4 linked regions of the Homo sapiens genome follow. The protein of the gene in region 2 interacts with the protein of the main gene of each other region in a biochemical or structural test. Each region holds a gene or a part of one and is shown on either strand. Other genes may lie near its edges. The genes, in order: PGAM5, PINK1, FBXO7 and MAP3K7.

Evidence for each region.
Region 1: of the proteins of PINK1 (region 2) and PGAM5, one has a biochemical effect on the other in vitro, tested with the Homo sapiens proteins (one study listed by BioGRID).
Region 3: the proteins of PINK1 (region 2) and FBXO7 form a complex in vitro, tested with the Homo sapiens proteins (2 studies listed by BioGRID, with this or other methods).
Region 4: of the proteins of PINK1 (region 2) and MAP3K7, one has a biochemical effect on the other in vitro, tested with the Homo sapiens proteins (one study listed by BioGRID).

The regions. Positions count from the first base shown.
Region 1 is NC_000012.12:132,706,668-132,713,850, reverse strand, and holds the start of PGAM5 (serine/threonine-protein phosphatase PGAM5, mitochondrial), read right to left. Parts: upstream 3,010-7,183; 5' UTR 2,975-3,009; coding exon 2,784-2,974; intron 1-2,783. UniProt on the Homo sapiens protein: Mitochondrial serine/threonine phosphatase that dephosphorylates various substrates and thus plays a role in different biological processes including cellular senescence or mitophagy. Modulates cellular senescence by regulating mitochondrial dynamics.
Region 2 is NC_000001.11:20,629,236-20,636,457, reverse strand, and holds the start of PINK1 (serine/threonine-protein kinase PINK1, mitochondrial precursor), read right to left. Parts: upstream 3,001-7,222; 5' UTR 2,910-3,000; coding exon 2,523-2,909; intron 1-2,522. UniProt on the Homo sapiens protein: Serine/threonine-protein kinase which acts as a sensor of mitochondrial damage and protects against mitochondrial dysfunction during cellular stress.
Region 3 is NC_000022.11:32,484,811-32,491,844, forward strand, and holds part of FBXO7 (F-box only protein 7), read left to right. Parts: intron 1-257; coding exon 258-399; intron 400-2,934; coding exon 2,935-3,018; intron 3,019-6,275; coding exon 6,276-6,371; intron 6,372-7,034. UniProt on the Homo sapiens protein: Substrate recognition component of a SCF (SKP1-CUL1-F-box protein) E3 ubiquitin-protein ligase complex which mediates the ubiquitination and subsequent proteasomal degradation of target proteins and plays a role in several biological processes such as cell cycle, cell proliferation, or maintenance of chromosome stability.
Region 4 is NC_000006.12:90,549,046-90,556,079, forward strand, and holds part of MAP3K7 (mitogen-activated protein kinase kinase kinase 7), read right to left. Parts: intron 4,542-7,034; coding exon 4,413-4,541; intron 3,135-4,412; coding exon 3,004-3,134; intron 1,505-3,003; coding exon 1,423-1,504; intron 1-1,422. UniProt on the Homo sapiens protein: Serine/threonine kinase which acts as an essential component of the MAP kinase signal transduction pathway. Plays an important role in the cascades of cellular responses evoked by changes in the environment.

The sequences.
Region 1 (7,183 bases), on a different chromosome or scaffold from region 2:
CAAAAACATTAAAAAATTAGCCGGGCAAGGTGGTCCACAGCTGTAGTCCCGGCTACTCAGGAGGCTGAGGTGGGAGAATTGCTTGAGCCTAGGAGGGAGCCATGATCTTGCCACTGCACTGCACTGCACTCCAGCCTGGGCAACAGAGCGAGACCCTGTCTCAACAGCAACAAAAAAAGTTCAACGCGGCAGAGCTGGGAATAGCAAAAGTCGAACCTGCTGGTATTTACTCGCTGAGACAGTGGCGGAAAAGGAAGCTGTGGAAGGGCACGGTGGTGACTCAAGGGCTCCGTTTGGGCCACGCCGACCTGGGGGCCTGTCATAAACCAGGCCAAGACTCAAATTGGCAGGTATGGGGGAGTCAGGCTGAGCCAGAGAAAATATTTGGGAGCTATAGGCACAGAGACAGGAAGCCGTAAACTGCATGAGACCTCCAGGAAGAAGCTGGAGATTTCACCAGATGAGGCTCTGGAACTTTCAAGTGTGGACAGGTGAGACTCAAGAAGAAACATGCTGTCTTCTAGCACCTTCCTGTAGTTGCTCATGCCTTCTGTCTGTATAAGTCTTTCCCAACCCACAAGGCCCAATTCACTTCTCCCCAGACATGACAAGCAAATACAGAACACCTGCTTAAAAGAGAAAGGCTGGGCTCAGCTCCCGGTTCTACTTCAAGTTCTTTTTTTTCTTTTTTGAGACAGAGTTTCACTCTATCACCCAGGCTGGAGTGCAGTGGCACGATCTGGGCTCACTGCAGCCTCCACCTCCTGGGCTCAAGTGATTGTCCTGCCTCAGCCTCCCAAGTAGCTAGGACTACAGGTGCATGCCACCATGCCTGGCTAATTTTTTTGTATTTTTAGTAAATACAGAGTGTCACCGTGTTGGTCAGGCTGGTCTCGAACTCCTGACCTCAAGTGATCCGCCCACCTCAGCCTCTCAAAATGCTGGGATTACAGGTGTGAGCCACCGCACCCAGCCTACTTCAAGTTCTTTAACGGCAGAGTAAATCTGTTTCCTTAAAAAGACCTAAGAAATTCAGAATATTGATTCAGAATTTCTGATTTTTCAGAATTCTGATTTTTAAAAAAGAATATAACAGGCTGGGCATGGTGGCTCATGCCTGTAATCCCAGCACTTTGGGAGGCCGAGGTGGGAGGATCACCTAAGGTTGGGAGTTCAAGACCAGCCTGACCGACATGGAGAAACCCCGTCTCTACTAAAAATACAAAATTAGCTGGGCATAATGGCGCGTGCCTGTAATCCCAGCTACTCGGGAGGCTGAGGCAGGAGAATTGCTTGAACCCGGGAGGCGGAGGTTGCAGTGAGCCGAGATTGCACCATTGCACTCCAGCCTGGGCAACAAGAGCGAAACTCCGTCTCAAGGAAAAAGAAAAAAGAAAAGAAGGAAAAAGAATGTAACTCCAGTCTAATCATGAGAAAACCTTCAGAGAAGTCTCAATTGAGGGACCTTCTACCAAACCCCTGACCAGGACGCCTCAAACACTCATGATCATCAAAACAAGTCTGAGAAATTGTCACAGCCAAAACATGCCTACGGAGGCATGAAGACTACTTGTCATGTGGGACCCTAGAACAGAACAGCAGGTAAAAGCTGAGGAAATCTCAATGAAACATGAACCTTAGTTAACAGTAATGTATTATAAACTAATATAATAACTATAATTAATCTATATTATTTTGGCTCATTAATTTTGATATATACACCATGCTTAGTGTATGATGCTAATAATAGAGGAAATAAGGTTAACAAAAGATAAAAATCTAATATAAAGTACCTAACGCAACCACAGTAGTATAATTCTGTGCCCCCTTTCTCAAAGTACTGAGTATAATGAGGAGTTAGGACTGGGAAAACCATCCTTGCCGCTAGAGCAGTCCTGGCCGACAGAAACAGAATGCCAGCAACATGTGAAATTATACATTTTCTAATAGCAACATTAAAAAGAAACAGGTGAATTTCGATCATACTTTTAATTCAATATGCTAAAAATACTATTTCAACACATAACTAATGTTAAAAACCTGCACTACTTTTTTTTTTTTTCCTTTGAGACAGGCTCTGTTGCTCAGGCTGGAGTGAAGTGGCGGGATCTCGGCTCACACTGTGCAGCCTGGGACCCCTGGACTCAAGGGATCCTCCTACCTCAGCCTCCCGAGTAGCTGGGACCACAGGCGCGCGCCACCTCGCTCGGCCAATTTTTTTTGTATTTTTTGTAGAGATGGGGGTCTCACTATGTTGCCCAGGCTGGTTTCAAATTTCTCAAGCGATCCTCCGGCCTCAGCCTCCCAAACGCTGGGATTACAGGCCTGAGCTACCGCACCCGGCCCTGCTTGCGTTAAGTTTAAATTGACGTAAACTAAGCATTCCCTTCAGGAATCACACGAGCCATATTTCAAACGCTCAATAACCGCACGCAGCTCGCGGGCGCGCTCCTGCAAACGCCCCTGAAGGAGGCCCGGCTTCCACCTCAGCCTCGCCCCGGCCCGCGCTCCGGCGATGGCACCCAGGGCGGACTCGCAGGGGCGGGGAGAAGGGCGAGGACGCGACGGAGCTCGGCCACAGAAGCCGGCGGGAAGGGTCAGCCGCCCCCGGAACCCTCCGCGCAGAGCGGCCCCGGAAAGCGGCTCCTCCGCTGGGGAAAGCAGACGGCGACCCCAGATCCCGACCCGATCGCAACCTTAAACCTGGTCCCGATCTCGATCCCAACGGTAACACCTGCCCTGACCCCCATCCCGACCCCGGCCCCAAACAGCCCCGCGCGCACCTGTCCCAGTTGGGGTCCCAGACACCGGGGCCCGGCCGCGCGCCCCCCGCCCAGGCCGGCGGCTCAGCCGGGCGTGGCTCCGCGTCCCCGCCTGCGCGCGGCTTCCCTACCGCCACGGCCGAGAAGAGCACGGCGGCCGAGCCCCCGGCCAGCCCGCAGGCCGCCAGCTGCAGCGCCTGCCGGAACGCCATGCCGCTTGCTCCCGCGCCGGCCCGCGCAGGCGCCCACGGCCCCGACGGCGCTCCGCGAGGAACACGCTTCCCCCGGCTGCCGCTTCCGGGCGGCGGGGGCGGAAGTCCCGCCTCCTGGGGCGCGGCAGGACGCGGGGCAGCCTTGCGCGAAGGGGCGTTTTCGTGGAGCCACCTGCCGCGCCACGCTCCAGTCCCGTCACTTGTGCTCGCGAGCGCCGGTGCGCGCAGGTGCGGGCGGGGTTGTGGGGACGCCGGGAGGGCGGCGCGGTACTTTCCAGAAGGTTCCGCACCGGAAGCGCCTGCCGAGGCCGGAGGCTGGGTGCAGGGGCGGAGACGCGGAGAACTTGGGATCCTGGTTTAAGGGAGCTGGGAAGCTGCCGCAGGTTTGTTTAAACGATATTTTTTTGGTGGCGGAACACGAAGTAAAGTTTTCCGTCGGCGCAGTTCCTGCGTGTGCTGTTCAAGCGGCCTGAAGTGCGTTCAGGTTCGGCCGGGCTGTCCCTCCTCCTGGTCCCGACCCCTCAAACCCCGGGCCGAACACCGCCCTCTCCTGCGGGACAGTCTTTCTATGGCCGGCGCGTTTCGCCTAGCAGGGTCCTCAGAGGGACCGCGTTAGAGCCTGGGTTTCCTTCCAGGGGGACCAGCGCTCCCTGGGTGGACCGACCCCACCGCTTACCCATTGCTGGACGCCTGCGTGCACCGACCCCACCGCTTACCCATTGCTGGACGCTTGCCCTGTTGCCATCTCCTCGCTAGCGTGAACAGTGCTGCGTGCAGATCTCTCTTTCATTGATTGTTTTGCGTCTGTACCCAGAAGTGGGATTGCTGGACCATCTCTGCCCATTTTAAAATTGGGAAATGACATGATCTGATTTAAGCTATTTAAAAATCACTTGGGCCTGGGCTCGGTGGCTCACGCGTGTAATCACAACACTTTGGGAAGCCGAGACAGGCGGATCACCTGAGGTCAGAAGTTTGAGACCAGCCTGGCCAACATGGTGAAACCCGGTCTCTACTAAAAATACAAAAATTAGCCGGGCACGGTGGCTCCAGCCTGTAATACCAGCTACTCAGGAGGCTGAGGCAGGAGAGTTGCTTGAACCCAGGAAGCGGAGGTTGCAGTGAGCTGAGATTGCCTCACTGCACTCCAGCCTGGGCAACAGAGTGAAACAATGTCTCAAAAAAATAAAAATAAAAAAACTGAATGGTTCCACAGAAATACTGAGACTTCTGCTTAAACAGGCTTTCTTGAACCTGTACGCTTCCAGTTGGGTCTGCTGCTTCCAGGTCATTTACTAAAAATGATAGGAAGATTTAAAAAATAAAAATAAAAGGAAGGCCGGGCGTGGTGGCTCACGCCTGTAATCCCAGCACTTTGGGAGGCCTAGGTGAGCGGATCACGAGGTCAGGAGCTCGAGACCATCCTGGCTAACACGGTGAAAACCCGTCTCTACTAATAATACAAAAAAAAAAAAAAAAAATAGGGCATGGTGGCGGGTGCTTGTAGTCCCAGCTACTAGGGAGGCTGAGGCAGGAGAATGCCGTGAACCCGGGAGGCGGAGCTTGCAGTGAGCCGAGATCGCGCCACTGCACTCCAGACTGGGCGACAGAGCGAGACTCTGTCTCAAAAAAATAAAGGAAAATTGGGCCGGGCGCAGTGCCTCACGCCTGTAATCCCAGCACTTTGGGAGGCTGAGGTGGGCGGATCACGAGGTTAGGAGATCAAGACCAGCCTGACCAACATGGTGAAACCCCGTCTTTACTGAAATACAAAAAAGCCTGGCGTGGTGGTGCGCGCCTGTAGTCCCTGCTACTCGAGAGCCTAAGGCCGGATAATCGCTTGAACCTGGGAGGCAGAGGTTGCAGTGAGCCAGGATGGTGCCACTGCACTCCAGCCTGGGTGACAGAGACTCTGTCTCAAAAAAAAGAAAATCAGCCAGGCTCAGTGGCTCATGCCTGTAATCCCAGCACTTTGGGAGGCCGAGGCGGGCAGATCACCTGAGATCAGGAGTTTGAGACCAGCCTGGCCAACATGGTGAAACCCCATCTCTACTAAAAATACAAAAATTAGCTGGTACATACCTGTAATCCCAGCTACCCAGGAGGCTGAGGCAGGAGAATCGCTGGAATCCAGGAGGCAGAAGCTGCAGTGAGCTGAGATCACACTACTGCACTCCAGCCTGGGTGACAGAGCAAGACTCCATCTCAAAAAATAAAATAAAAAACAAGGGAAAATCCACAAGGACATAGTTGAATCCATAAGAAGAAATGACAGCAGATAAATCAGTTAACAAAAGTTCAAGAGCTGGAGATCAGATCTTTATCGACCTGAGAATATGGAACACCAGTGCCTATGTGGAAGGAAACCAGGAAGCAAGTTCATTTAATCCAGTGAGTCTGGAAGAGTCTGGGAGTTGGCAGCATTAGCCTCCTGTCTGAGAGCTGTGGGGCTGAAAGCAGGAGCATTTAGAGGAAAAGGTTGCCTTCCACATTTCGTTTCTCCCCCACATGTTCAGGGGAATAGCTCACTTTCATCACCGTGGAGCACTAGAGAAAGGCCATTCCAGGGGACTTGAACAGGAGGGTTCTGGATTTCAGGACACCAAGCATAGCTCAGATTGGGGATGCAGTAATAAAGATGGGATTATACAGAGTTCACATAAGGAAGAGTAGGACCTCTAACCCCTTTCCTCCAGATAGCCACAAGAATGTTGGCCACTAGGCTCATTCCCTGCTCAGCTACCACCACCATCCTTCCCCCAATGCCCTGACAAGAACTAAAGGATTCCTCTGTGTGGAAACTGACCAGCCCAGGAGAAAATATTTTTTTTTAATGTATTTTTTACGCCGGGCGCAGTGGCTCATGCTCGATAATCCCAGCACTTTGAGAGGCCGAGACAGGCGGATGGATCACTTGAGGTCAGGAGTTCGAGACCAGCCTGGCCAACATGGTGAAACCCCATCTCTACTAAAAATACAAAAAATTAGCAGGGCATAGTGGCACGCGCTGGTAATCCCAGCTACTCAGGAGGCTGAGCCAGGAGAATCACTTGGAAACGGGAGGCTGCAGTGAGCTGAGATCATGCCACCGCACTCCAGCCTGGGCAACAGAGTGAGACTCTGTCTCAAAAAAAAAAAAAAAAAAAAAGCCTGTTTTCTGATGACTGTTAAGTGTGTGAAACTAAAAACTCCTGGTCTCTGCTCTCCCCTGTGTGCCTGACAGCACTCCGTAAAGGTGTGTTCAGCGAACTGACCGGATGCGGGCTGTGGTAAGCCATATACATGATGTGAAATCTTCTCCAGCAAATTCTCTTGACCTTGCCGTGACACTCTGATGCCCTATGATGAGGTGGTGAAGATGGTGGCTCAAGACCTGGCTGACTGCCTCTGAATCAGGACTGTCTCTTGCTAGCTGAGGCATCTTGCATCCCCCACATGTGGAGTAGAGAAAACAATGGCACCTCCCTCAGGGCTGCTGCAGCTCTCAGAAGAGTTCCGGCACAAAGCAGCCCTAAGCGGTGTCAGTACTGTCATCTCTGGATTCTAATCTAGAATCTGTTCTGAGATCCAGGTTCTTAATCCTCCATCATGGCAGGGGGTGGGACTCACTGGGAAGTGGCAAGTTAGAGGGATAGTCAGAATTGTCACCTTCTGCATCAATTGCAGGAGCATCTGTTACTTTTGCAAATGCCCTAAACTTCCTTTGGGAACGACCCCACCTTAAATATTCTGAACTGAAAGAGCAGTTCTTTGAAAACCCAAGGCAAGCAGGACTTGAGCAGGCATTAGTGCCGCTGTCTTCACCGCCACATCCTTCACGGCATCCAGGAGCTGGAAACAGTCTAGCCACTGACGGACAGACGGACAGGCAAAATGCAGTCCACGCACACGGCAATGTTCAGCCTTTTAAGTTTTTAATTTTTATTTTATTATTTCTTAGTAGAGAGGGGGTTTCATCATGTTGGCCAGGCTGGTTTCAAACTCCTGACCTCAAGTAATCCGCCTGCCTCGGCCTCAAAAAGTGCTAGGATTACAGGCGTGAGCCGCTGCACCCAGCCCTATTTTTATTTTTTATTTTATTTATTTATTTTTTTGAGACAGAGTCTCACTCTGTTGCCCAGGCTGGGGTGCAGTGGCACGATCTTGGCTCACTGCAACCTCTGCCTTCCCAGTTCAAGTGATTTTCCTGCCTCAGCCTCCCAAGTAGCT
Region 2 (7,222 bases):
AGGCAGAAGAATTGCGTGAATCTGGGAGGTGGAGGTTGCAGTGAGCTGAGATCGTGCCATTGCACAGCCTGGGCGACGGTGTGAGACTCCGTATCAAAAAAAAAAAAGGAAAATCCAACTTCCCTTATAAACTTCATGGAGCAGAAGCAACGTGTGTGTGTATATATATAAAATATACTATATACTATTATATGGAACATACATATTATAGTATACACAACATATATACACATATACATATATATACACATTATATATATATTTTTATAATATAAATTTTTAGAGCTTGCTACTAGCACACTCCTGCTAGTTGCCCAGGATGGGGTGCAGTGTTGCAACTACAGCTCACTGCAGCCTCAAACTCCTGGGCTCAAGCAATCCACCCACCTCAGCCTCCTAAGTAGCTGGGACTATCGGCATGTGCCACCATGCCTAGCTAACTTTTTAATATTTTGTGGGAACAAGGTCTCACTATGTTGTCCCAGCTGGTCTTCAACTCCTGGGCTCAAGAGATTCTCTCACCTTGGCCTCCCAAAGCACCAGGATTATAGGCATGAGTCACCATGCCTGGCTTCAGAATTTTTTATTTTTTTATTTTTTATTTTTTTTGAGACGGAGTCTCACTCTGTCCTCTAGGCTGGAGTGCAGTGGCGCGATCTTGGCTCACTGCAAGCCCTGCCTCCCGGGTTCACGCCATTCTCCTGCCTCAGCCTCCCGAGTAGCTGGGACTACAGGCGCCTGCCACCATGCCTGGCTAATTTTTTTGTATTTTTAGTAGAGGCGGGGTTTCACCATGTTAGCCAGGATGGTCTCGATCTCCTGACCTCATGATCCGCCCGCCTTGGCCTCCCAAAGTGCTGAGATTACAGGCATGAGCCACCCCGCCCGGCCCAGAATTTTTTAAATGTGAAATTAATTCCAGCAAAAGTAGCCAGTGAAAACAACTTTTTCTCCCCCCAGTCAGAGTCTTGCTCTGTCACCCAGGCTGGAGTGCAGTGGCGTGATCTCAGCTCACTGCAACCTCCGCCTCCCGGGTTCAAGGAATTCTCCTGCCTCAGTCTCCCAAGTAGCTGGGATTACAGGCGCCCACCACTGCGCCCGGGTAATTTTTGTATTTTTAGTAGAGACAGGGTTCCACCATGTTGGCCAGGCTGGTCTCAAACTCCTGACCTCGTGATCCGCCCGCCTCAGCCTCCCAAAGTGCTGGGATTACAGGCATGAGCCACAGTGCCTGACCAAAAAAAATTTTTTTAATGTGAAATTAATTGATAACTAATAACATTTTCAGGCATAGGAGGGTGAAGTGTGCGAAGAAGGTGTGTGTGAATGGTAAGTTTAGGAGGATCAATCTCCTCAGTTAAAAAAGCCTCTTTAGTTTTAAGCAGGATTAGTCAAATTTCCCATCCTTAGCTTCTGCCAGTTAAGCTGTGGCAAAAGACAAGGTCAGGGGCTGGGGACTAGGCCAGATGTCACCTGTCACCCCAAACTGGCCAGAGCTCAAACATGAGACAGTGGTGATGAGCAATAAGAACTGGGATGGAAACCAGGAAACCCAGGAGCCACTGCTTGGCCCTAACAGCTGTGTCCTTGGGCAAGTCACTCCCTCTTCCACCACCTCAGCCCTAACCTGTAAAATGCAGGGGCTATGCTAATTTAGTGAGTGGTTCTACACCCCCAGGAAGAAGAGTGACCTCCCTGGAAGAAGATGGAATTCTGCCAGCGGCCAGGCTTCAAACCTGAACTGCACCGCTGGCTCCTCCCTGGCTCTCCAGCCTGCCCGCCTACTCTGCGGCTTTTAAGACTTTGCCAATCCCCATAGGGAGCCAGGTCCTCAAAATAAACCTGCCTCTATATAGACACATCCTATTGATTCCATTTGGAGAACCCTAATACAGACTTTGGTTGGGCAAAAAGAGAAGTCTTGTGCTATTTTAAGCATTAAAAAACCCTAAGAACCCTTGTGTATCCAGTCAGCAGGGATAACTCTACACAGGTAACTAAAATGTTAGGACTGTTTTTCTCGCCGTTCATAGTTTTTACTGCGGTTTCAGCTCTGTCACTACTAATCCTTTGGTTAAACGGCGGAGGCAGCCTGGCTCAGTGGTTAAGGGCACTGCATTTTATTAGCTGTGTGACTTCGAGCAAGTCCCTTCACCTGAGGACTTTCCTTCTCCATAAATTAGGGACGGCAACTACCTCAAAGGGATAGGAATGTTATGATTTAGTTGTCCGTACATTTTAGAAAATTTACACAAAGCCTTTTGCTGTGCTGCGACAGGAGCTGTAATCGGCAACATGTCTTCATTTGAGGAAGGGAAACATTAAAACAAATGGGAGGTGCTGGCTTTATTTATAGCAGCCGATCAGTAATGGTGAAATAGATGAGCTTTAAGGACCCTCGCCTCGGCCCTCGATCTGCTCAGAGCCCCGCCTCCACACCTAGCCCCGCCCCCACCCAGCTGAGGACCCGCCCCCGCGCTTAGCTCCGTCCTCCGCTCGGCTTAGGACCCGGCCCCGCTCACCTGGATCTCCTGACAGGCCGAGACCGCCCGCCGGCTCTCCGCCTGTTTTTCCTCGATGAGGCCCAGCCCTAGCCCGAAGGCCAGAAAGACTGCCCGGCCGCAAGGGCCCGCGCAGCCCCAGGCCCGCACCACGAACTGCCGCTGCAACCGCGCCGCCAGCCCGGCCACCGACTGGCGGAAGAAGCGGAGACGGTTAGGGAGCCCGAGCCCGACCCTGCGAGGCTCCGCGCCCGGTCCTGCGGCCCAGCCTGGACGCTCCCCGCGGACACAGCCCGCCGCCGGGCCCGGCCGCCCCAAGCCGTAGGCCCGGCCGGGCTTGCCCGTGAAGCGCAGCAGCAGCGCTCGACCCAGCTGCAGGCCGCGGCCCAGCGCCTGTCGCACCGCCATGGTGGCGCCGCGGCCCGGTGCCCCCGCAGCCGCCGCTGCCGCCACCACCGGCGTCCCCCGCCGGTCACAACAAACTTGGGGCGGTGCCTCTGCGCAGGCGCAGGCGCTGGTGGGCGGGGCCGGCCCCCGCGGCAGTTCCCCGACTCGGCGCGTGGGGGCGCTATGCTGGTACTGGCGCCTCTAGCAGTGACTTTCCCTTTGCACTTTGGACCCACGTGGAGGGCTTGCCGGTTCAGGCAGGTCCTGAATGTGAACATCACTGGTCCTGGGCAAAATCGAGAAGTCGAGAAGGGAAACTGATATTTTTTGCCAACCATGGTGCCAGACCCTTTACGTCTTTTAATTTATTTAACAGCTCCACCAACAAGATAAAAATGCCGTTTTTATAGATAAGAAAACCGAGGCATAGTAAGGGGCAGCATTCGAGGTCTTGTGAAGGTACCTAGCAGAGCTGAGCTACAGTTCACATTGTCCTAACTGTTGAATGCTTGCCCTCCTCAATGCCGTTAGGCTGCTGTATGTGTCCACAGTCTCAGGGGTTTTGAAGACCCCAAGACAAATCTCACCCAAAAGACACAATTTATGAATGAGTGTGCTGAGGTCCCAAGATAGCAGCTTGCCCAAAGCCACACCGTTTGTTTAATGGCATAGGCCTGCTCACCACAGAACACACACACGCACGACACGCACATTACTGAAACAGTTTGCTGTCTCCTGGCCAGGGGTCCACCCCATAGCCAAGTAAGCCCAGGGGACAGAACTCTTCAGACAAAAAATCCCTTCTTCAGCAGCAGCTCCTATCTACATGACCTTTGACTTCATATTTAAGGAGAAAGGGATTTATGAACAGAAGCCATAGTCTCTGGCTTCAGCGGCAGGGAGACAAGATGGTGGATCCCCATGCCATTACCCCCAAGACCCAGGGCCTATATGCTATAGGAAAGGAATGTGACGGACATTTGAAGTCAGTCCCCCAGGGAAAGGCAAGAATGCTGTGTGAATCTGCCTAAGGGCAGGATTTATGGTAAGTACATACTTTTACACAAGGAACAATAGATAAACTGGAAATCTTAGAGGCCTTCCCTAAAAGCTGGTTAATCAGAAGTCAACTTGGTTGGCCGGGTGTGGTAGCTCACAGCCTGTAATCCCAGCATTTTGGGAGACTGAGGCAGGTGGATCACTTGAGTCCGGAAGTTCATGACCAGCCTGGCCAACAAAACACCATCTCTACTAAAAATACAAAAACTAGCTGGGCGTGGTGGCACACGCCTGTAATCCCAGCTACTCAGGTGGCTAAGGCAGGAGAATCGCTTGAACCCAGGAGGTGGAAGTTGTAGTGAGCAAAGATCACACCACTGCACTCTATCCTGGGCGACAGAGTGAGACTCTGTCTCAAAACAAAACCAAAAAACCAACAAAACACATCAACTTGGTGGATTAGCATCCAAGACGGGGTTGCTTTAGCTTGCACTGTGTGTGTGTGTGCTGGTCTCTCTCATAATCTTCCTTAAGGGAGGAATTTTATGGTTCTTGTGATATCCAATCATATTTATTTGGGAGAGGCATAGATGAATTTCCCATTTGTATAGAGGCACATGAATATCAGATATTTAATTTTTTGGATCAACCTCAGGGAATTTTTAATTATAATTTTAAATGCTCCACTGAAGTTGTAATTTGAAGAATGATAAGGGAAAGAAAGTTGGAGAAATCTCACATTCCAGTAACCACAGGCTCACTCATGGAAACTTAGTTGGGGCACAGATGAGTGGATTTAAAGTTTAAATCCACTCGTCTGAAGCCAGGTTTGCAGTGGTTCACTCCAGCACGTGGGGAGGCTGAGGTGGGAGGATCGCTTGAGGCCAGGAGTTCAAGACCAGCCTGGGCAACATAGGGAGACCCTGTCACTACAGATAATAATAATTTAAAAGACCCCAGCGAGGCATGGTGGCAAGTGCCTGAGGTCCCAGCTACTTGGGAGTCTGAGGCAGGAGGATTGCTTGAGTCCAGGGGGTTGGGGCTGCAGTGGGCTGTGATTGTGCCACTCCACTCTCCACTCCAGCCTGGGTGACAGAGTGAGACTCTGTCTTAAAATAAAATCAATCTACTCATCTGCTGTGTCTCATTACTGTAAACTAAAAATGAGGTTCTAAGCTCCCCAACTGACTAAATGGACCCCCTCTGGGCCAAAGAAAACCTAAAAAACTAAATTTCAGGCCATGAAAGGAAGGGAGGTTGGACACGCCTCCTTATACCCCCTCCCTTTTGGAGTTTAGCCACGACTGACCAGCATTAATATTCAATAGTGCACATAAGACTGACAATAAGATACCAAATTCCAGCCTGACGCTGGTATCATAGCTGTCCATTGGGTTCCCCTTGTTCATTGCCTAGACAGAGCTGATTTATCAAGACAGGGGAATTGCAATAGAGAATGGGTTTAATTCATACAGAGCCACCTGTATGGGAAACCAGAGTTTTATTATTACTCAAATCAATCTCCCTGAAAACTCAAGGATGGTGGTTTTTATGGATAATTTGGTGAGTAGGGGGTCAGAAAGTGGGGAGTGCTGATTGGTTGGGTCAGAGATGAAGTCATAGGGAGTTGACACCGTCCTCGTGTGCTGAGTCAGCACAAAACCTTGGCTTCTGCAACCCCCCTTATCTTAACTCAAGCGTTTCTTTCTACTGAGTTCAATTCTTCAGACAAAGCTTAACTCTTTCAACCAATTGCCAGTCAGAAAATCTTTGACTCCACGTAGAACCTATGAGCATCCACTGCTTCAAGATGTTCCACCTTTCCAGGCTGAACCAATGTATATGCCTTCCATGTATTGATTTATATTTTTGCCTGTCACTTCTGTCTCCCTAAAATGTATAAAACCAAGCTGTAACCCAGCCACCTTGGGCATCCTTTCTCAGGACCTCCTGAGACTGTACTCTGAGCCATGATCACTCATACTGGCTCAGAATAAACCTCTTTAAATAATTTACAGAATTTGGCTTTTTTTTTTTTTGGTCAACATTACCATTATAGCTCCTCTCTTTAATGTTTATAGAGAAGGAAAAAGAGGTTCTCTGAGATATTTAATGTTTCAACTACAAAGATTTTCTTTAATCTCCCAGGAACATAACCTTTTAGTATGAGGCTTATGATGACCACACAGCTTATAAGACATTGTATTGGTTGTCTTGAGTTAAAGAGTACGTTTGTCTTAAGCCTTTGCATTTGTTCCCCTGAGCTGCAAATGAACTCACTGGACCTGCGATACGTAATCCATCAGCTGGAAATGAAATCTCCAGACTGATGTTAATTAACCTTCCATTGTAGGCTGGACTTACTCACTTCTCCATCTGTAGAAAAATCTGAAGTCTGACAGGTCTGAATCAAGCACAGCATGAAGCTTGATTCTTTGGCAGACATCTGTATGGAATGGACAAGTAAGTGGATTTTGGAAGAGAGAGGTTTCCAGCAAGGATTTCAGGGGTTCTGCATTCTCACCTCTCAGGTCAGAGATACAGCCTTACTGTGCCAGGGGCACAGGCATGCATTTCCCAGGGACAATGGTCCTGACTCCATTCATCCCTGTCTATCCTCCTGAGAAGGAAAAATTCTTTTTATGGTGGTGCCATGGGTCTCAGGTCTCAAGGAATCATCTTGAGATTCTCCCATAACATCTCCCATCTTTTTATTTATTTATTTATTTATTTATTTATGAGACAGGGTCTTGTTCTGTCACCCAGGCTAGAGTGCAGTGGTATGATCATGGGTCATTGCAGTCTTGAATTCCTGGGCTCAAGCAACCTTCCTCCCTCAGCTTCCCAAATAGTTGGGACTACAGCTCACACCACTATGTCCAGCTAATTTAAAAAATATTTTGTAGAGATGGGGTCTTGCTATTTGCCCAGGCTGGTCTCGAACTCCTGGCATTAAGTGATACTCCCACCACATCTCTGGGGTTACAGGAATGAGCCACTGCCCCTGGCCTCTCATCTCTTTAATGGTATCCCAAAAAGGTGAAATTGGATATATGATTGATATGTTTTGGCTCTGTGTCCCCACCCAAATCTCATCTTGAATTGTACTCCCATAATTCCCACATGTTGTGGGAGGGACCCAGTGGGAGATAATTTTAATCATGGGGGTGGTTTCCCCCATAATATTCTTGTGGTAGTGAATAAGTCTTATGAGATCTGATAGTTTTATCAGGGGTTTCCACTTTTGTATCTTCCTCATTTTCTCTTGCCGCCACCATGTAAGAAGTGCCTTTTGCCTCCCGCCATGATTCTGAGGCCTCCCCAGCCATGTGGAA
Region 3 (7,034 bases), on a different chromosome or scaffold from region 2:
TCAATCCCTGTTTCCATGATGCAGTTTTACCTATTTGAACAAAAATTTTGATTAAAAGTGTTCTAATATATTATCTTATACAATATGGTTATCCTACAATATAAAATATATTGGCAATGTTAATGATTTGATGCATTTTATTAAGAGGACTGTGTGGAGTGATTATTTCAAACAAGTTAGGAGTCTTTTGGATTTTTAATCTTTTTGAGAGTAACACCTTTCTTCATTATTTGTTTCCCTTTCATTTCGTTCCCCAGGGCACCGAAGCCAAAGCACTGTCCATGCCGGAGAAGTGGAAGTTGAGCGGGGTGTATAAGCTGCAGTACATGCATCCTCTCTGCGAGGGCAGCTCCGCTACTCTCACCTGTGTGCCTTTGGGAAACCTGATTGTTGTAAATGGTAATTGGATAGCATAGTCATGGTTGCTGGTTTATGGATTCTTAGACGTTTCTTTCCAAATGTTTTATAGCCACTTCAGTGATTGGCTATCATGATACAGTTGTGAGTCCTTCTCAACTGTATTTAATTCCTAGGCCACTGATAACATGTGTCTGGAAGATCATGGAATATGAGGTTGTTGAGTTGTTTAGGCCAGCACCCTTCATTCTTAGGGCATCCATTTTTTTGATGTCTTAATCTTTGTAATATTTTGCTCTGGGGGATAATATTTAATATTATCCAATATTATCAGTATTTGATAATAGGAGTGAAATGAGCCTATTACACATGAACTCCTTGGAGAATACTTTTTCTTTATGCCTGTGGATGGCTTTATTTTTTTAACGAAGGTCTTGAACTGAGACATGGGGAGCTAGACCTGGGGTCACCATTTATCCAAGTTGGCATCCCTGTGACCAGCAATGCACAACAACAATGCTAAGTTTACTGGGGCCTTAGTAAGTATGTGTTTTATTTGCTGGGCCTCCCCCAACAAATGTCACTCTGTATGAATAACTTTTCCTGTTTATTTTTCATATTAAGAAATTTCACTGGAATAGCAATGCATTCCATCTCTGTGTTTTAGTTCAGGTACCACTTTGTTTCATATCAACTCCTAGTGTTCTGTCATAATCACACATACTGGAGATCCATTTGAATGACTAGGAGCTTTCATTTTTGTTCTGTTTTGTTTTTTGAGATTTATCCTTTTAGTTAGAAAGATAGCGTGGTAAGATTGGGAGGGCTGCGTTTGTTGTTTTTTTATTCAGTATAGCTCATCTTTTTCGTTTAGCAAAGGCAGTTGCTTTGGTAAGCCTTAGGTCAAAGGTTTAGGTCAGAGGTTTTCAGTATGTTCTGTAGCTACTCCTTTCTGCTGAGATGAAAGTTAGGTAGAAGCCCTATCACCACTTAAACCTTGAGCAGCAAAATGTTTATCTGTTTCATTTATTGAAGTTCTGTGTAAGATTCTGTTTGAAAAAATGTTGGTTTTTTTTTTTCCTGCTAAAATCTATTTTGAAAGCTACTGACTCATGCCATCTTGATCTTTGACATGTTGGATAGTTCTCATTCCCCTCTTACAAAGTTTCTTTTTTCTTTTTTTTGAGACAGGGTCTTGCTCTGTCGCCCAGGCTGGAGTGCAGTAGGCAGAGCATGGATCATTGCATCCTTGACCTCCTAGGCTCAAGCAGTCTTCCTCCTTGGCCTCCTGAGTAGCTAGGACCACAGGCGTGTACCACCACACCTGGCTATTTTTTATTTTATTTTTTGTAGAGATGAAGTGTCACTGTGTTGCCCAGGCTGGTCTCAAACTCCTGGGTTTGAAGCAATATTCCTGCCTTGACTTCCCAAAGTGCTGGGATTACAGGTGTGAACCATGCCTGGCCTCTTACGAAATTTCTATTTCTTTAGTCATAAGATTCTTTGAAATGTTATTTAAAAGTCTCAAAACTAGGTTTAATAGCTTTGGTGGTACTTCACATTTGTCAGGACATGACTGTCTGATGACACTAGGACCTAGCAATGTCTATTCAGCAGTTCATCATAATTAGCAAATGTAGCTTTTACTTTGGCATTCTTGTACACAGAGTGTCAACAGTTTCTGCCTTCATCTAATCATTCTGCTACATCACATCATAACTTGCAAGGTTGGAGTTACCAAATAGTAAATGTGTAGTTGCAAATTTTGCCTTGATTTTTTATAAAAGCACTTAATGACGTGTATAATAACCTCTATTCACTAGATTCAGGATACTTAATATAAAAAGAATAACTGCTGAATGTCTTGATGATTTCCTAATTTCTGATGTTTTGTTTCTTTACTGTTCTTGGCAAATCAGCTCTTGGCAGACTTGCATGGCAGCCAGCCGTTCCAGGATTGATTCTTTGAAAAGGAGCAGTGTGTCTTTAAATCTTTCCTTCACCCAAGGCATCCTGCTTGGTGCACATGTGCATAAGCACATCACTGGGCTCTTTCATGGAATGAGATGAAGTGCGCCTTTGTATACATGATTAAAATTGAACCCTCTGGTGATGTCAAGTATATTTATCCTTTGGGTCTGGAAGAGAGATGATGCTGTGAAAACTAGCAAGATTATTTTAATGAACAAAGGAAGACTCATTGCCAAGGGTTAAATAAAAAATAAATGGAGTTTTTAGTGACTTCATTAGAAATAATGATTTTATTGTGTTTAGTTGCCTCTGATTAACCTTGTTGCATATCTTTAAGTTACTAATAAGCTGCTGCCTAGTGGATTTTATATAAAGATGCTTACTGTAGTTTTTAAAGGTGGTGTTGTAGAGTGATTTTACTTCATGTGATGCCAGGTTTACACTTTTGAACTTGCTATCAGAGAAAGAAATAGGCGAAGAACAGTTTGTTTTGTATAATGTGTCCTTAGTATATTAGGAGCTAGGAAATGCAAGCCCATACTAAAAAAGAAAGGCAGTTGATGAAGTGACAGAATTCTTTATCATCTTTCTTTTGTTTATTTACAGCTACACTAAAAATCAACAATGAGATTAGAAGTGTGAAAAGATTGCAGCTGCTACCAGAATCTTTTATTTGCAAAGAGAAACTAGGTAATACAAACATTATTTAACTTTTGGGGTGAAACTCTGTGAAATTCATATAAGAAAAAAATCTGAAAGATAATGTTCAAAAGACTGAAAATTTCTATATGAGATTAAAGCATATTGAAGACAATGTGGTTTGTTTAAGAATGCAAAGGTTTAAAAAATGTGAAAGTTTTGCTTATAATTTGAGGAGTTTGTTTCTTTCCTGTTTTTCTTAGGGTCATAGTGTGCTGAATTATATTGTTATGAGATAACACTAGTATGTAATTTATTACACTCTGATGATAGTTCATAGTTTCTGTACTAATCTTTGGAGATCTCCCTATTGAGATCTCCATATTGGTATTTAACCAATATGGAGGGGATCTGTGTTTCATGAAAGTAATTCAATGTCAAGTTCATTATTGAAGATTATTGGAGGAAAAACTACAATCAAAATGTTTGTTTAAACCTATATAAATTTGATGGCTATTTTATACAGATTGATACTTTACCAAAGGTTTGCATTCTAGGTAAGGTTTTGCTTAAACTCTATAAAATTATTAATAGATACAAAGAAGACAGGTTTTCCCTTTTATCATTTTTCAGTTAAACCAAACTGTGAGAGGCAGTTATAGGTGGTTGGAGCAGAAGAGATAAGGTGGAGAGGGGAACTGACATTTTTTAAGTGCCTGTTTCATTCTGTACTTGTGCCTGTACATATGTTATTCCATTTAATCTTCTTAGTAAACTTAGGAGGGTTTTAAGAGCCTAGTGGGAATGTTGTGGTACAATGGGAAGATGGCATTTATAGCAGTCCTTTAGGAAAGGCTGGCTAGATTGACATTGTTGCTTTGAAGGCCTAAAGGCTTATTCTTGTTCATTCCTAGGGGAGATCAGCCCTGAGAGATTGACTTATACTAACTAAAACTGACAGGAAAAGGAGATAGCAGAATACATATTTATAACGGTCTCTGATTGGATGTAGAGTCAGAAATTGGGAATTAGCTGAATTGAATTTTTTTTTTGAGACGGAGTCTTGCTCTTTCGCCAGGCTGGAGTGCCGTGGCGCTATCTCGGCTCACTTCAACTTCCACCTCCTGGGTTCAAGCAATTCTTCTGCCTCAGCCTCCTGAGTAGATGGACTACAGGCGCACACCACCACGCCCAGCCAATTTTTTTTTATTTTTAGTAGAGACAGGGTATCACCATATTGGCCAGGCTGGTCTCGAACTCCTGACCTTGTGATCTGCCCGCCTCGGCCTCCCAAAGTGCTGGGATTACAGGCATGAGCCACTGCGCCCGACCGAGTTGAACATTTAATGTCAGACTAGGCCAGAGTTTCTCAATCTTTTTATTCTCACTTCCCAAAGGAGCCGTTGGAGATTTTCCCCTCAATCTCTCTCCTTCATGAAATTTCATACCACAAATATAGTATGTTTTATTTATGTACTGTGACCCTTTGAAGGATCACAAACCAATATAATAGTTTTTCTTTTTAACCCGTCAAGGACCAGTTTTTGCCCCTGTTGGAAATGCATAAACTGGACTGATGAATTGGTATAGATGGCTTTTATCATGAGGATCAGAAAAACTTGAAATTCCTTGGCTACGACACTCCATATTTATCACCGTATAGGGAGGACCTTGTTATGGGGAGTAGAAACACTCTACACTTTACAGCAGTAGAGGTTTTATGCCCATTTTATAGATCAGGAAACAGATCTAGAGGAGGCTCACTTACTTAAGGGTCACAGAGCCAATAAATGGTGAAATACAGGATAGGAATAGATTTGGCTGACTCCCAGCCTTTTAAAACAACTTTTACAGGAATGTAGCTCAGATTGTTATTCTTTATCTGGTTTCTCTTAAATAAAGAAAAATGAAATGGAAGGGAGGAGGAACATTAAATACTGTTAAATTACAAGTTTATGGACTGTTATAATGAAGTATTTTTAATAAAGTCTTATGTTGAGTAGGAATATGCTGCTCATTTGGCAAGTCATTTTAATGAATTTTTACTGTGGTTCATAGCACCTAGTAACTATAACTAGGCACTGTTATTTATCCTTTTATTTATAAGTTCCTAATTAAATAGTTACATACCAGGTTGCTGAAGGAAAACATTCATTTAAAGAAAATCAATTTTCACATTTGAAAAAAGCCCTTGAGCCAAATTGATTTTAAAGAATGATATCTTGACAGCAAATTTCAACTCAAGATTGCAAGTCACACAACAAAGATTTAGACATTAGCTGCATATCTCTTTCCTTCTTCTTATCGATCCTGTTATACTGAGTGTTTTATTTGTTATAGATAGTGAAATACATAAATATGAAATGGGGAAGGAGCAAGCATAAATTGCCTACTGATACCCTAGGCACTGCTCGTGGAGCTTTCAATTATAACAACGCTTATCTGGTGTAGTGGTGGTGTCTCCTTTAAACAGTTGAGCAAAAAGGTGAGGATCAGAGGGGCAGGTTATTTGTCCAAGGCTATACACTTGGTAAATAGCAAAACAAGTGGGAACCTCGGCTGCAGTTTGCTAGTGCGTCCGTACTTTACTATGAGTCACCTGGGGATCTTATTAAAATATAGGTTCTGATTTGGTAGGTCTGTGGGGGCCTGAGATTCAGTAGTTCTAAACAGTTCCAGGTATTGTCAGTTCTGGTGATCTGTCGCCCACATGTTGAGTAGCAGTGTGGTGACTAAAAATGAGTGCTTTTGAGCCACACGGACTTGGGTTTGTGCACTGTTCTGCCACTAACCATGGGGCCTTGGACAGGCTTTCTGTACCTTGACCTGTTTTTAAAATGGAGATAGTAATTAGGAAAGAACTTCTGATGTGAAAGCTTGAAAAACGCTTGACACAGGTGCTGATACATAGTCATCATGCGATAAATGCTATTAATTTACCAGGTTCTAAGCGTTAACAGGAGCAGTTCTCCACTGTATCCTTAGTGCCCAGAACAGATTGATAGCTATCAGGAAATCTTCGTATGTATGAATCTCTCACAAGTCTTTTCTACAACTGCAGCCTATGAGCTAGAGAGGTTGGGCACAGCTCTACTAATTTGATATCATGGAATTTTTAGCTTTTATATCTAAGATTCAGTTTCATCAAGTCTTGCACTGTACTTCTTCCATGAGGGAATTTGGTTCATGCTTATCTTTGTGAATTATTTGTGAATATTTATTCACCATGTTGATTGGGTTTGGCAGAAATAGAGGACAGTTTTTTCACTTGATTTTGGGTTTTGATTTTACTTTAAAAAATATTCTAGGGGAAAATGTAGCCAACATATACAAAGATCTTCAGAAACTCTCTCGCCTCTTTAAAGACCAGCTGGTGTATCCTCTTCTGGCTTTTACCCGACAAGGTAAGAGATGAAATACTGTCACAATTTAAATGACTGTAAAGAATAGTAAGTATACTTAATATTCTTGGTGAGTATGACATCTGACTGCCCTCTTTTCTGCTCCTGGCGAAATGTTCCTCTTCTAAGACTAAGCTTAATATTCCTTAAGTGCTATTTACTTTATCTTTGTATCTCCATGCCATTTTGTACATATTTTTATTGTAGTCTCTTTTCCATGGACTATAATTGTTGATATGATTTCTTTCCACCTAAGGTTGGGAATACCTTGAAGGTAGGGAATATATCTTACTTTTGTATTCTTGTGGTCTAGCATGAGGTCAGGTACATAATAGATGCTCTTTCTCTCTGTGTAGATACATATATATATGTCTATATAGACATATATTTAGATATATATGTCTATATAGACATATATTTAGATATATATGTCTATATAGACATATATAAATAATACATGGTCTGTAATTGGATCTAAGTTTTTTTTTTTAAACCATTTATTGGAGGCTCTTTGCAGGCACTTAGTTGGATATTTCACATGCATTCTTATTTACTGCTAATGACTTCGAAGTAAATTATGTGGTACTTATTTTATAGATGATGAAATCATAATTCAATAAGGTTTATAATTCACTCGAGATCCTTATATTAGCTTCTCATTTTTTT
Region 4 (7,034 bases), on a different chromosome or scaffold from region 2:
GGAATGATCCAGTAGAAAGCTAAAACTGATGATGCAAGAGACAGGGGAGAATTGCTCAGAGGAGCAGATGGGATATAATGCACAGGCAGAAAGGTACACCTTTGGCCAGAAGTATGGATAGTTTAGCCAGAGTAACAGAAGAAAGCAGAGTAGATGGGCACAGATGTTGTGGAAGCTGTCTTCCGATTACTCCAATTTTCTCAGAGAAAGAGCAAACAAGATCAGCTGAGAGTGAGGAGTGGCGAGGAGGTGTTTGAAGTCTGAGGAGAGGCTACAGTATAAAATTAAGACATATAGGAGGAAAGAGATGAACTACAATACAGTACAACTGTCCAATAGCACTAAACATGCACGTGAGGATAGTAAACCTGTGCTATCTCCAGCCACACTCAGCTGCATTGGTACAGGCAAGGAGTAAGCCGAGTGTCAGCTTTCATTAGGCTTGTGGTTTAGCCAAGCAAGCTTGAGAGAGAGGCTAGAAAGATGAAAATTATTCCCAAAAGAATTATAATAGTTGATTGGAATTAAGTGGAGGGAGAAAGAAAAAAGGACCTAAGAGGACTGAGGACCAGTGAAAAGGTGGGAGGCTCAAAAAATTCAAGGTCACAGTAAGGAAATGAAGAGAGAGTTTAGAGGACGTGGGAGACACAAATGATAGAATTTTAGAGAAGTACATTTTAGAATTCAGAGCAACTCAAAATATTTTCAGTAAAACTGGAATTTGAGAATAACTAGCCAAGCAGTAACCATCTTAAAATAAATAAAACTATTCTTGAGGTGGGAGAAATAGATCAGTAAAAGTATTTTTCAATAAATGCAGGGTAAATACATGTGCATATAGACACACACATATCTTTAAGTTTCAATTAATAATGAAATGCTTATAATGCCACTATATTTTGAGAAGTACAATATTTCTAAGTTACAGTATTATTTCTACTATCTTTTTGATGACCACAAATTACATGTCCCACTACTACTTCACATTTCGGAAAACTAAGGAACTTTTAACATAGCTTCTTAAATCAGAGCCTCTGTAGAAGAGAACAAAAACTAGGGTGTTCGTGATGAAGAAATGTTTAAATACATTTACAATAATTTCTAATACTACTTGATCTAGTAGTATGCATGTAAAAGTGATTTTTCAAGTTAAGAATGACATTCACTGTAATACAATATGCCATCTTTTTATTCATAATTATGTAGGAATTCTAAGACTTGGAAGCAGGTCTTCAATAACTCTTTAATCAGGGTACCTACATGAAGAATGACGCACCTGTAAACTCAAATTGCAGTCAATCATATGAAATGAAGGAATTAAAATGCAAATGGGGACATTATTCATTACTTCTTGATTATAATTTCATGGGAATAGAGATGAAAGAAAAATCAAGTCAATACTCTTCCAATCTATCCATTTACCTGTACTGGTGGCAGAGTTGCTCTGTCCTTCATCTGAATACTGACAAGGATACTGTAATGGCTCATCTGCTCCTGGAAAGTACTATATATAAAAAAGTAAACCACAGCTTAAAATTTCCTTAATACAAATTAAATCCTGATTAATGTTTTATTTTCCCTAAGTTATATACTAAATTTGTAGGTGCCTAAGTTTTTTATTTTACAAAGATTACAATAATGTACTCTTGGATTTCAACTTTGATCAATGCCATGCACCTACCTAAGAATCTAGCTTACATTGGAGTCTAGATAGTCTTGAAGAAAACAGCAAATATTTCTCTAGAGAAACATATGAAATAAAATAGTATCATTTCTCATAATTATGTAAAACATACTCATGTTCTTACAGTAGTGATGTAAACTTCCAGTGACTGTTAGTCTGAAGACTGAGACTAGTATACCATAGAATAATTGTTAGAACATTTTAAATATTAAGAGGATAGATTATGAATGTCTTTCTACAAACTGGAGGCATAATACTCAAAGTATCTGCTGGACAAAAATGTTAGAATTTAGAGAAAAAAAGGAAACGTATTCTCCTCAAATTAGACAAGGAACAGAGAAGCAAAATTACAACTGCAATAACTTATATATCCTAAAGTTTTAAGTAATCTGACTACAGAGACTAAGTTGTTTTCTTATGCACACACCTTTAAGGCCTAGGCTTCTATATATGACTGGTATCCAAATACGATGGTAAACTTTTAGTAGATTAGTTCAAGCTGCTTTGCGTAAGAAATTTTCAATAGATTGAATAAACAACGTTTTACCATTTAGGAAATTACTTAGTCTATATTTAAGGAGATTGTAAGATTCTTCTACTGAACAAACTGTTTCAAAATTCAGGCACTTTCATAGATATTTGAACTTTTTAAAGCCAAGATACCACTTCACAGTTTTTGTTAATGTACCAAAAACCAGAGGCGTAAAATATTCCAAATAATTCTAAAGGCGCTTGATTCACAGACTAGGAAAATTTGATAATCATTTAAAAGGGTTCTTCTAAATAGAAGAAAGTTTAACTTTTTACTGGGATATAAAAACCTGAAAATAGGCCAAATAGTAAAAGTCACTCAAATAAATGTGTCTGAGAATGCAACCTATTGCCTTGCATAAATGACTAAATGCTTGATGAAAATTGGTATCAGAAAAATGTAAAATTTAGTTTATCATGTATTGAAGTCATAATATTAATATATCCAAGTCCTGTGATGGCTTTAGAGACTATCTATTTCAGTTTCTCCCACATTACAAATGAGGCAACAGGCCCAGAGACAAACATACTTGTCCACTAATGTAAGCAAAAAGAAAAAAGCAAGTCTAGAAACCTAGTCTAGCCATCTTTCCAGTGATAAAGAACTAGATTTTCCCTCTCGAAATGTTTCCTCTTCTGACTATGAGTAATAAATGCCCATTCTCACTTAGAAAACATAGCAATATATAAAGCAGAATATAGTAATAACATCCCTTTTAAAATTCCATTAAAACTCAGCACATATTAAATTCCCCTAAATCCAAAGCCCCTCAAAAGAAGGATTATACCCGCATCAAGTGAGTCATTATTTTCACAATTTCCTCCATTGAAGGGCGCTGGGAAGGATCTTTAGACCAACAACGAGTCATCAGGCTCTCAATGGGCTTAGGTAAATTTTTTATCAGTGGTGGTCGAGTACCTACAATTGAAAATGAGAGGAAGGGGGGAAGAATGTATTTACCCAAAGAATGATGCAAACTCTTTGTACGTATTTCCAAAGTGGTATTTATTTTATAGATCTTGTAGTTTAAGATCTGTAATTTGGAGTAATAAAAGTGCTTTGTAATTTTATCAATTAACAAGTTAGTTCTTTTACTCTTTACTTCACGGACGTTCAATTATTTACTGACAACTGATAGAAAGCAAGCAAGCAAGCTGTCCTGGTCAATGCTGAACAGTCTCCACAATGATACTAATGGTAGTAATATTAAAGGCAGTATAGGAAACTGGTAAAAACAGCTAAGATTACTCAGATGATGGTACTGTTTGATAAATCTATGAATGACCTAAATAATTAGGCAGACATTTGTTTTTAGACTTGTGGAATAATGTAAAAAATGGCCATTAGTCACATGATTATAAACAAGGCATAGAAATGAAATAACTAAGAGTGGCGCTAAAATTAAGAAGGTAAGTAATTTTCCTTCATGAAAAGCTATTTTCCCAAGCAAATGTAAAGTAACTTTACTAATGAAGAGGATGCATTCTAACATCATATGTGGTTAAAAACAACATTACCAGAACTATAAAAGAAACAGGACAGATGCAAGGACATTGAGTCCATAAGTCAATATGACTTAAGATATGAGCATTCAAGTCAGAAGCATCTGGATTTGAATCCCAGCTCTACCACTTACTAATCTTGTGACCTTAAGCAAGTTATTTAACCTCTCTAGGCCTCAGTTTCCTAATCTGTAAAATGAGGCAACAGTACTCACCTTCTAAGGGTGGGTGAGAATATAAACAGGAAAAATATGTGAAGCATTATTATTCTTTGCTTCTTCTCCTTGATGAGGCCCTTGCTTCTTCAGGAGAAAAGGGCTATAACTCTCCAGTTATATTAACCATGTCAGAGATTTTATGTATGTATTTTTTTATTTTTTCCATGATCCAGCCTGATGCTTCTCCCTAAGAGAGAGCCAACTGTCTAGGTTGCGTACTGATGGCCTTTCCCTAATCAGCGGAGCCAGTGAACATCCTCAGCCGCATGTGTAGACCAGGACTACTCTCAATCCTGCTCTGCTGGACTCTGGGGCAGGGACAGGGCAGAGTCTGATAATAGCAAAGCAGTCTCTTAACAAAGAATTGTACATTTTAATGTTAGAGATAAATGATATTCTTTAGGGAAGGGGACAGGAGTAGTCTTCCAAGTAGAAAACACAAAAAGTACTTTTAAGAAAAATTTCTTTTTACGAACCATTATGAACAGCCCACATGATTCGGAAAGCTGGGCCACCAATCTCATCAAAGGGTTTCCGACGCGTTATCACTTCCCAAAGAATAATACCCCAGCTGAAGACGTCACATTTTTCACTGTAATTACTACCTAGAAAAAAAAAAGGTAGTATATAACCTAAAGACTATTTTTCCACATGACTTACAGAAACAATGGCTTAAATTTTGAGAATGGGTATCAGGGATAAAAATGAGGCTGTCACATGTAGAACTAAGAAACTACTCTTTCTGAAGTACTTTGTCTTTTCAACAAGTACATTTTTAAATGAATTAAGTATCAACAATACACTAAAAAACTACTTCAGAAACTCAGTTATTTTCTATCTTTTTTCATCAAGAGGCAGTTTTTTCATCAAGAGGCACAGGACTTGACTTTTATGTATTTAGACTGATACTTTCTCTGGGGCAGAGTATGAAACATCTGTACATTCCTTTATGTTGTTTATTATTATTTTATTCTGAGACAGGATCTCACACTCTCATCCAGGCTGGAGCTCAGTGTAGCCTCAAACTCTTGGGCTCAAGTGATCCTCCTGAGTAGCTGGGGCTACAGGCATGCGCTGGCACAACTGGTTAATTTTTTAAATTTTTTGTAGAGATGGGGTCTTGCCATGTTGCCCAGGCTGGTCTCAAACTCCTGGGCTCAACTGATCCTCCTGCTCTGGCCTCCCGAGGCGCTGGGATCACAGGCATGAGCCATTGTGCCTGGCCTCCTTTCTGTTACATTTTAATCTTAAATTTTCTTCCCACTCTGACAGACAGCACTACTCTGCTATCAAAGCAGAAGAACTTTCTAATTTAGTGTTACAGTTTTTTCCTCAATATATGGTGAAGGGAAATTCTTAATTTATAAACTTAAACATTACGTTGTAAGTAACGAAAATTATGGATAACCTGAGTTACACAGCAAAATTTACAAACTAAGTAGGTGGTTGAATCAGCCAGCACAATAAGCACCCGTCATAATCTCCCAAAAACAAACAAACACTCAACTCACTGTAAGAATGAACAATTATTATAGCTATAGCTTTACATGCTAAGCAGTACACTGTAATATAGCACTACAACCATGCTACAGTCTAATTTGGGCTACAGGTTGACTGACATCTTTCAGAAATGAAGAAACTTACACAGCCTAACAGTCTGCATTTTGTTGCTCTAGACAATTAAGGGTTGTCTAGAGCAATAAAATTAATCTTTTGTATAAACAAATCTTTTTGCTCTCCACATACAGTAACATTGGGTCATTTTAACTCACATAAAGGTATATTAAATAAGTAAATAATTTTAAAACAATGTCAAATGTATACATTCTGTATATGAAACAGGAGGCATTATTTAATCTTGTGTAATATAACACCTGATTATTCATTTATTACTAAATTGAATTTTAGGGCAAAAGAGCTCCACTCAGGTGACTAGTTGCATTGCAATTTCTCTTCCTCTGGGGTGGCTAAAAACAAACAGAAAACCCTTTAAAGTCATCAAAACTGAAAGAAATAAGCTATAACCAGAGTCTGATTAACTGAATGTATCTGAATTTTATGGGCATTTACACTTCCTAACATACAAATCACATACCTTCAGTTCAACTTCTTTCATTTAAAAGATAATTTGATGTTTTTATACAGAAACCTAGCATATAATTTACAGACAACTCTTTTAAAACTTCAGTGACATATGGAGGTATAAAAGAAGGTAAACATATAAGCTTGACATTTATTTGTAATTCTTAGTATCTTATTTCTGTCCAATTACTTGCATTCTTTTTTTTTTTTGAGATGGAGTCTTGCTCTGTCACCCAGGCTGGAGTGCAGTGGCACGATCTCGGCTCACTGCATGCTCCGCCTCCCGGGTTCACACCATTCTCCTGCCTCAGCCTCCCGAGTAGCTGGGACTACGGGCGCCCGCCACCACGCCCGGCGAATTTTTTGTAGTTTTAGTAGAGATGGGGTTTCACCGTGTTATACAGGATGGTCTCGATCTCCTGACCTCATGATCCGCCCACCTCAGCCTCCCAAAGTGCTGAGATTACAGGCCTGAGCCACCGCGCCCAGCTATTTGCATTCTTTTTAAGGCATCCTCATTTAAACTTTAGGGCTCTCAATTTTTAATTGCTAGGAAACCAATACAAAAGCACAGTTAATTCTCATTATTCCTGGTATTTATGTTCTATAAAGTTTCTGAGAACACTGAATTAGTGAACACTGAATCACTGCTCCTAAGGAAAATACAGGGGTAGGTTCCTGTGTGCCTCTGGTCACCATGTTTTTGTCAACTGATCAATATATAGCCTTGTTTCATGCGTATTTCTGCTTAAAGACACCTTATTCATATATACTGTTGATTTATTACCATTGAACTCATAGTCAACATTTCTGTAACTCATGCCTGAATGAAGATAATTTAACATATGTATATTGTCTGTTAAGATACATCATAGCCTTCTTGTACTTAGGCAGTACTATGCTTGAGGGCCATTTTAAGTAGCAAAATTACCAACAAAAATCACAAAAATGAAAAAGGGCTCTGAACAGCACAAAAAAGGACACCTGCTTACAGCATGAGAGCTGAAACAAGACGG